2 separate regions of the Homo sapiens genome follow, and region 1 is linked to region 2. Evidence: fine-mapped expression QTL. A gene starts in region 2. The other region holds a variant in brackets. All regions are shown on one strand. Distances are between the middles of the regions.

What was found. PIP is the estimated chance that this variant, and not a neighbour inherited with it, causes the effect. A credible set is the group of variants that fine-mapping cannot tell apart.
Region 1: its variant is the best candidate, but not a certain one, in a credible set for the expression of KLHDC4 in CD8 T cells (CEDAR, PIP 0.88).

The regions. Positions count from the first base shown.
Region 1 is chr16:87,699,626-87,704,001 of GRCh38, forward strand. It overlaps a transcript of KLHDC4 not described here. Among named protein-coding and RNA genes, the nearest start is that of KLHDC4, 64 kb to the right of the region's middle. RefSeq lists enhancers at 2,086-2,135, 2,866-3,115, 3,151-4,350 and a silencer at 2,686-2,745. The variant G/A (reference allele first, on the strand shown) is at 2,296.
Region 2 is chr16:87,764,463-87,768,804 of GRCh38, forward strand. KLHDC4 (kelch domain containing 4) reads right to left here and starts at 1,524. Exons shown (of 12, transcript NM_017566.4): 1 at 1,330-1,524. The coding sequence starts at 1,428. LOC105371399 (a long non-coding RNA gene) reads left to right here and starts at 1,579. Exons shown (of 3, transcript XR_933871.3): 1 at 1,579-1,879. It overlaps LOC102724467 (a long non-coding RNA gene), which reads right to left. Exons shown (of 4, transcript NR_120309.1): 4 at 1,869-1,962. RefSeq lists enhancers at 812-1,436, 1,420-1,479, 1,560-1,619.

The DNA.
Region 1 (4,376 bases), 65 kb before region 2:
GAGGCAGAGGTTGCAGTGAGCAGAGATCGCGCCACTGCACTCCAGCCTGGACGACAGAGTGAGTCTGTCTCAAAAACAAGATACACACTGTAGAAAGACGGGCCCTCCCCTGCATTCACTCAGCTCGCTCCCCTGTAAGGCCCCAAGCCAGGCCATGGGCCAGCGGTCCCCGGGACGTCCATACTCCAGGCTCTAACCACACTTGCTCCTTTTCACTTGTAGAAGCACATGGCCACCGCGTCTCACGGAGGGCCATCAGTCACCCCCAAGGCGCTGCAGACCTAAAGTGTGGAGAACTCGAGGGAAATGAAATGTTTTTCATACTTTTGCAGTTCAGGTTCTTGGTTGTCCTTTACTCCTTCCCCGGGAGGTTTTATCGACAGCTGGACCCGTCGGACTGAAGAGACCCTGAGGCCTGTGGTGGTCCCCAAGCTGCTGGCGCTCCTGGGCCGTGTGCGGGTGGCAACTCCCCTCACAGTCTTCATGGGACAGTGCGGATTTCACCTCATACGTGCGACAGACGCTCTGCAGGAGACAGCGGAAGGACCGTCTCCCTCCTCTAGGTCATGCTCACTTTCTCTGACTCTTCCGAAGTTTGATCTGACTGTTCTTGCCTTTGGTCTTGGAAACTTGACATCAAGGTGCCTATTAGATTTTCAGTCGTCGCCTTCCATAGCTGCAGGTGCTGTGACTGTTTCTGCCTTCAGCCGGCCGACAGCACCGGGCGCAACAAGCTTCAGGACATCATGATGCCGCCCTCCTGCAGTACCTTTAACCTCGCCCGGGCCAGGGTCTGCCTCCAGCCCAGGACCAAGACCCCGATTCCAGATAAGGCGGAGGGAGGAGGGCAGGGGGTAGAGGGAGGAGGGCAGAGGGTGGAGGGAGGAGGGAGGAAAGAGGGTGGAGGGAGGAGGGCAGAAGAAGAGGGCAGAGGGAAGAGGGTAGAAGGAAGAGGGTGGAGGGAGGAGAGAAGAGGTGGAGGGAGGAAACAGGGTGGAGGGAGGAGGGAGAACGCTGGAGGGCAGAGGGAGGAGGGCAGAGGGCGGAGGGAGGAGGTTGGAGGGCGGAGGGAGGAGGTTGGAGGGCGGAGGGAGGAGGTTGGAGGGCGGAGGGGAGGAGGATGCAGGGCAGAGGGAGGAGATTGGAGGGCGGAGGGAGGAGGTTGGAGGGCAGAGGGGAGGAGGTTGCAGGGCAGAGGGAGGAGGTTGGAGGGCGGAGGGAGGAGGTTGGAGGGTGGAGGGAGGAGGTTGGAGGGCGGAGGGAGGAAGCTGGAGGGCGGAAGGAGTCAGTCAACTCAGGCACCTGGTTGGCTTCTCTCGCGCCCAGGCCGCGTGTCAGGTGAGGCAGTCGGTACGCAGAAACTGAGGAAGCGACTGTCCCCAGGTGCCAAGGAGGTTGCTGGCTCAGCCTTCAAAACAAGCAAGGAAGAGTGCAGCTGCATTTGTTGAAAAAAAGCCAGGCTGTATTTTCACCATGTGCCCCCTGCCTTGAAAATGAACTACGGAATGCACAGCGCGTGGGGGGTGGGTGCTGGAAAGGGACAGAACAAGGGTCCGTGGCAACCACAAAGCACCTGCAGGCCAGCGCTTCCCGATGAGCAGAGGCGGGGGCTGGCACCTGGCGCTGGCTGCAGACGGGAAGTCAACGCCACCAAAGCAGAGGACCTCAGCCACCCAGGTTAGCAAGAGGGTAGCAGGGCGCTCAGGAACAGGTGAAGCCATACTGTGGAGAGAAGCTGAATGCTCCTCCCAAGCTTCAGCCCACCCATTAGGAACAAATGCTCTTTAAGTCTGTTTCTTCATGAAACCCAAAGTGGAAGTGCCTGAGCTGTGAATGCGGCCACAGCGTTCATGCCAGCTTGTTCCCAAGCCTAGGAGAAGCAAGCAGCCCCGTGACGGGCACAGGCCACAGTGTGGGCGTGAGCTCACCCCATGTGTAGCCGGGTGCTGGGCCCAGGCCGCTGGGTTTCTGGGGTCGGCAGAGTGGGCCAGGCAACAACCTCACATGCCTACCTCACTGCCACTCGTCCGCCTCGTCCACTCCTGGCATTTGGGATAAACATCCTGTCTCAGACACACCCTTCTCGTGCGCCCATGCCACCTGCTCAGGCCTATGCCGCCCGCCCGTCCTCCCAAGCGTGCACACCCGTCCGCCATCCTTCTCCCGTCTGTGCCCCATGGGACAGAGGCCTCCAGCTGCACCACCACTGCTCGTTAACAGCTGCCATCCACACCGAGGAAGCCTCTTCGAGCCCAGGGAGTGGAGGATGGGGCTCTGCTGTGCACGTGCTCCCTC[G/A]GGCCCTCCCAGCAGTGGTAGATGGGGCTCTGCTCTGTCCTTCTTGGTCATCTTCCTGGGCCTGCAACAAAGCTCAGCCCAGCAGCCAGGCAGCTCCTTACAGAGGCTAACGCCGGGTCTGGTCCCTGGTGACCCCAGGCTGCTGTGAGAACTTGTGACCCCCGAGATCAGAACAGCCTTCGGGTCCCAGAGCTTCCCGCATGATCGTGTGTGGAACAGACCGGGAGATTCCAGCAGATATGGGTTCAACGTTGACCACCAACCTTGACAACCCAAGGGCTGCCTCCCCTGACCATGACAGCCAACTCCTCCTCCACAGTGGCTCTGCCAGGCGCCGAGTCCATAAAGGGCAGCCACTGTTTGGCAAGGAGGGCCGGTCTGCCGGGGGCTCCCAGGCCCTGGGGTCAGGCTGAGAGAGGAAGATGGGTGTGAGGGTGCAGGGGCAGGGGGGCGGGCCCTGCAGGGCAGTGCCTGGCCCGTCCTGCACCCCCAGCCTGGGAACCCCCGGCTTTCTCGCTTGGGCCTCTGGGGAGCCCGCGTCCCCAAATGTAGCCACATCAGAGCACACTTCTCCGGCAGCAACTTCCCAGGCATGTCCGTGGCCTCCTCGGGGGCAGGCGCCCCCTCCTGGACGCTGAGCTGACCTCTCTAGCAGGACTCTGCTCATCTGCACCATTTGCCATTTCCACAGAAACCCTGTCCCCAGAGCCCGGCGGAGAAAAAAACCACAGGGGCCTCTCTGCTCAGGGGAGCCACGCGGAAGAGGCACCCTCGCTCCAGCTGCCAAAGCAACTGAGCCTGCTGCAAACATCTCTGTGAACTCGGACAGGAAACAGTGTTAACCTGTGTTTCCTTCCAAGTCGGCCCTGGCGCATGTGAACTGCTTGCTAATACTGTGTACAATCACGCCGTGCAATGACAGAGAGAACTTTTCTTATTGATGAAGTGGTTTAAAAAGTTACCCTGAGCCTTTTTTCTTTGCTTTTAAGCTGGAAAGATAGCTTGATTACTTATGAAATGAAAAAAAGTTTTCCTAAATGAATGTAACAGTTTAAATCATACTGTTACGAAAACAACACTGTCAAGATTAAAAAGAAATTCTGCTCCTTTTAGTAATAAACAATGTCGTGTGACACTTTGGAACGCTTCTCTCGTTACAAACCAGCGTCTTTACTGAAGGTCCTTCCGCTGCAGAGCTGCGCAATGGATGTGTGGACAGAGCTAGTCGGCACGTGGAGGCTCTCCTGGTTTTCGAGCAGGAAACGTGCTGTGAGCAGGAATCGCGAGTGAGTTCCATGGCGTCCCCGGGTCAGCGCGCGTGCAGGAATCGCGAGTGAGTTCCATGGCGTCCCCGGGTCAGCGCGCGTGGGGTCCTGTCTCGCTGGCTCACCACTGGTGGCCAGGGCATGTCTCCCCCAGCCCTGAGTCTCCGCAGTGGTGACCAGGGCATGTCTCCCCCAGCCCTGAGTCTCCCGGCAGTGGAGGCAGCGTGGGCACAGGGTTTGTCACAGCCTGTAAGTGAATGGAGGACACAAAAATAACCAGAGAGGCAGGCTCTGCCCTCCGGGAGTGCACAGGCGGTTTTTAAAATGTGTGCGTTCATGTAATTAAACGTCTCCGTTTGTTTCTCAGGGAGTGGTTACTCAATTTCTTCCCAGCCAGAGCTTTGTAAACCTGCGCTTCTCACCCCTCAGTGAAGCCTGAGTCCAGCCTCTAAAGGTGGGTCCCCTGGGTGGGCTGCAGCCAGTGGGGGCTTGGAAGGGCTCTGAAGGTTGAGACAAGGAAAACGGGCGTGAGCTGGACTCAGGGAAGCCGGGTCACCGTGGTACCTGCACTGTGGCCCTTGGCCATGACAGTGTGTCAGCTTCCGGCAGGGACTGCTTGTGTGCCTCGGGACACCAGTGACCAGGTGTGGCCAGGCCCCAGATGGCATTGCTGCAGCTCTCTCGTGAAAGAGTAATGGAGGTGACTGCAACCTGCGCCGGGAGCCATCTGGGCTATGAAAACGAGACTGGCCTCCAGCGCCCCCGGCCTCCACACAACACTCTTACACTGCCCAGGAGAGCAGCGGTCACTAGCAA
Region 2 (4,342 bases):
AAAACGGTGAAACCCGGTCTCTATTAAAAATACAAAATTAGCTGGGTGTGGTGGTGCATGCCTGTAATCTCAGCTACTTGGGAGGCTGAGGCAGGAGAACCACTTGAACCTGGGAGGCGGAGGTGCAGTGAGCTGAGATCGCACCATTGCACTCCACCCTGGGCAACAAGAGTGAAACTCCTTCAAAAAAAAAAAAAAAAAAAAAAAAAAAAAGCAGAAAGCAGCTAACAGCTGGTTACTGAGTGCTTACTTTCTGCCAAGCACCATTCTGAAGATACCACACAGATGAACTGACTTCCTGTGCCACAACCCTAGCCAGCAGGTCATGCCACTGCAGCCCAGCCTAGGTGACAGAGCAAGACTCTGTCAAAAAAAAAAAAAAAAAAAAGAAAGAGCCTAAGAGGAGTGTGAGGGAAAAGTCCAACTCCATTATTTAAGAGATGAGGACATGGAGAGATCAATGACTTAGGAAGAAAAGGGACAAAGGACTGTGGTCAAGAGCTCCTGATTCAGGACATCTGGTCACATCCCAGTTCCATACCACTTCATGGTTCACCTGTTGGTCTTCCTGTCAAATGGGAATACCAGTGCTACGGAACTGACCTGCTCGTGAGGAGTAAAGCCCAGGGAGCTGTGCCTGGCGCACGGCAGGCCATAAAACTGGCCCCGGTTAGGGAATCCATGAGCAGCAGCCGCAGAACACTCAACCCCAAGGTCAGGACGGATCCTCCTGCAGACCCCGGGCTGAGGACCAGAGGGAAGGAGACAACCGTGATGGCCGCCATCAGCTGCTACGGGATACCCCGTGGCTCCAGTGCCTTCTTCACTTAACCATCTGCTGCTCACTGCTCAGGGCTGCTGTGATGATTATTTGCCCTCTTTTGAAAGAAAAGTAAGGTTCAGAAAAGTTAAGAGTCTTACTCCCAGACCACACATCATGCAGAGGCAGCCCCCGGCTCAACCTCAGGTCTTCCTGTGCCAAACCCCTCCCTCTTCTCACCACCCAGCCTCCCTTCAGAGGGAGGGTGGAGGGAGAAGGGAGGAGGGGGAGGAAACGCAGAAAAACGCCCGTGACACCACACTAAGAAAAGCAAGCACGTTAAAGGGGGCAGCTCCGAGAAGCGGACAGACACACGTGGAGACTCAGGAGGGGGCGGGCCCCGTCTGGGCTGCCCGGACGCGGCGCCGGGGCAGTTCCTACGGCCTCCAGCTCTCCCGCAGGGCCGGCGCGGCTCCCACGGCCGACCCGTAACCCCGGGGGGCGCAGGGAGTCGGCCGAGGCTGCACGGCCGCGACGTCGGGCCGCTAAGCCCGGTCTGACCCGCTCACCTCCTCCTTCCGCGAGCGCTTAGACACCTTCTTCTCCATCTTGGCGGCCGTCTTCTCCGCGCCGCGGCCCTTCTTCTCCTTCTTGCCCTTCTTGCCCATCTTGCCGGGTCCCAAGCCGCGACGGGACACCAGGAAAGAAAACGGCCCGCGCTCTCCGCTCGGAAACAGGTGCTCGTGGGGCGGAGCTCGGCGCACAGAAATGGAGTCACTTCCGGCCCCGAGTTCGAGCCGCTTCCGGGTAGAGGTGCGGCTGGGCCCTTTACGAGGTTCGGTCTTGGAGCTCCGTCTTCGGCAGCGGGCTCGGGGGCCTCGGACTCTGCATAAGGCCCCGGAAAAGATGACCGGCCCCGGGCTGGGCGCGGTGGCTCATGCCTGTAACCCTGGAGCTTTGGGAGGCCTTGGCGGGCGGATCGCTTGAGTCCAGGAGTTCGAGATCAGCCTGGGCAACAAAGCGAGACACCACCCCCCACCCCCAGTCGCTACAGAAGAAAAAAAAAAAAATTAACCGGGCGTGGTGTCTCGCGCCCAGTGGTCCTAGCTCCTCGGGAAGGTGAGGCGGGAAGATCGCTTGAGTCAAGGAGTTCCAGGCAGCAATGCGCCCCTGCACCCCAACCTGGGCGACAGAGCGAGATCCTGTTTCAAAAAACAAAAAAGATGGCAGCCCCGGCCTGACATACCCCGGCCATGCTCGCCAATTCTCACGCCCTGTGCCCCCACCTAGCCTGTCCCCGTGTCCTAGGAGACGTGCCCTCTGAGTTTTATTTTTTATTTCTATTTTTTTGAGGCAGGGTCTTGCTCTGTCGCCCAGGCTGGAGTGCGGTAGCGCGATCTCGGCTCGCTGTAACCTCCGCCTCTGGAGTAGCTGGGACCACAGGAGCCCACCACGCCCGGCTCATTTTCTCTTGAGTTTTCCGGGGTGCACGTGCCCCCCGTTAAGGCACATTGCTTCGCCCTGGGTAGAACTAAGTGGGCGACTCTTGGGCTAGCCCCATTTTTTCCCCTCAGACCAAACAAATGAGTGCTTTTTTCCCAGAAAAAAAATTTCACACAGTTATAAGATTTTGCAGATCCTGAGTAAGACAGTCCCTGCCGGGCGCGGTGGCTCACGCCTGTAATCCCAGCACTTTGGGAGGCCGAGGTGAGTGGATCACGAGGTCAGGAGTTCGAGACCAGCCTAGCCAACATGGTGAAACCCCCGTCTCTACTAAAACTACAAAAATTAGCCAGGCGTGGTGGTGGGCACCTGTAATCCCAGCTACTTGGGAGGCTGAGGCAGGAGAATTGCTTGAACCCAGGGGGCAGAGGTTGCAATGAGCTGAGATCAAGCCACTTCACTCCAGCTTGGGCAAAAGAGCAAAATTCCATCTTAAAAAAAAAAAAAAATGGGGGGGCCCTTCCACCTTCCCATTTAAAATGTGCCAGACACTGTTAGGTACTAAGGGCATGTCCTCAAATGTCCTAACATGGAGGACTTTTGTTTCTTCATAGGTAGGCTAGAGCTAATGATAGCACCCTGAAAGGGTACTCAATTTGTGGAGCCTGAGAAATAAAGATAGGTAATATCCAAATGCCTGCTAGGAAATTGTACTCTAGGATTTGCCTCAAATTACGTAAGAAATGGCAAAATCATCTGCAGTGCATGGAATGTTATGATTTGAAAGAGCAGAGTAAAAATGCTTATCACTACTTAGAAGATGTCATCTTTGGATGGGTAATCAAGGAATAAGGCAAATTAAGGACAAGGACAAGCCAAAATTTGGCAAAGGGAAAGCATAAATCAGGAAATAATCTAGTTTATTACTTTGTGTGTGAGTCAGCCTTTAAAAGTTCTCTTAGGCCAGGCGTGGTGGTTCATTCCTGTAATCCCAGCACTTTGGGAGGCTGAAGCGGGCTGATCACGAGGTCAGGAGTTCAAGACCAGCCTGGCCAATATGGTGAAACCCTGTCTCCACTAAAAATACAAAAAAAAAAAAAAAAATTAGCCAGGTGTGGTGGCACCCACCTGTAGTCCCAACTATTCAGGAGGCTGAGGCAAAAGAATCATTTGAACCTAGGCGGCAGAGGTTGCAGTGAGCGGAGATTGCACCACTGCACTCCAGCCTGGGCGACAAAGCAAGACTCCATCTCAAAAAAAAAAAAAAAAAAAGATGTTATCTTAGATCCAGCCAGGTGTGATGGCTCACGCCTGTAATCCTAGCACTTTGAGAGGCAGAGGCAGGCAGATCACCTGAGGTCAGGAGTTTGAGACCAGCCTGATCAACATGGTGAAACCCCATCTCCACTAAAAATACAAAATTAGACAGGCATGGTGGTGCGCACCTGTAATCCCAGCTACTCGGGAGGCTGAGTCAGGAGAATGGCTTGAGCCTGGGAGACAGAGGTTGCAGTGAGCCGAGACTGAACCACTGCACTCCAGCCTGGGCAACAGAGCTAGACTCCGTCTCAAAAAAAAAAAAAAAAAGAAGAAGTTAACTCGGCCAGGCGTAGTGGCTCACATCTGTAATCCCAGCACTTTGGGAGGCCAAGGTGGGCAGATCACGAGGTCAGGAGTTCAAAACCAGCCTGGCCAACATGGTGAAACCCCGTCTCTACAAAAATACAAAAAAATTAGCCAGGTGTGGTGGTGTGCACCTTTAATCCCAGCTACTCAGGAGGCTGAGGTAGGAGAATTGCTTGAACCGGGAGGAAAGGTTGCGGTGAGCCCAGATCACGCCATTGCACTCCAGCCTGGGCAGCAAAAGCGAAACTCTGTCTCAAAAACAAAAAAAGTTACCTTAGATCCAATCAATGACTAGTCACTGAGCAGCTGAGGAGGAATGATTTTCCAACCCACTCCAAGCCTTATCCATAAACCTAGCTCTTTAAGAAGAAAAATGAAATTTGGGGAAATAATGAGAAGAAAAGATAGCACTGGTTGAAGACCACCATGGTCTCCAGCACTGCTTGTAGGAAACCTATGTGGTGGTAGAAAAAAAAAACCGGTTAGGAGCTGAGCAGAAAGGAGCTGGAGAAT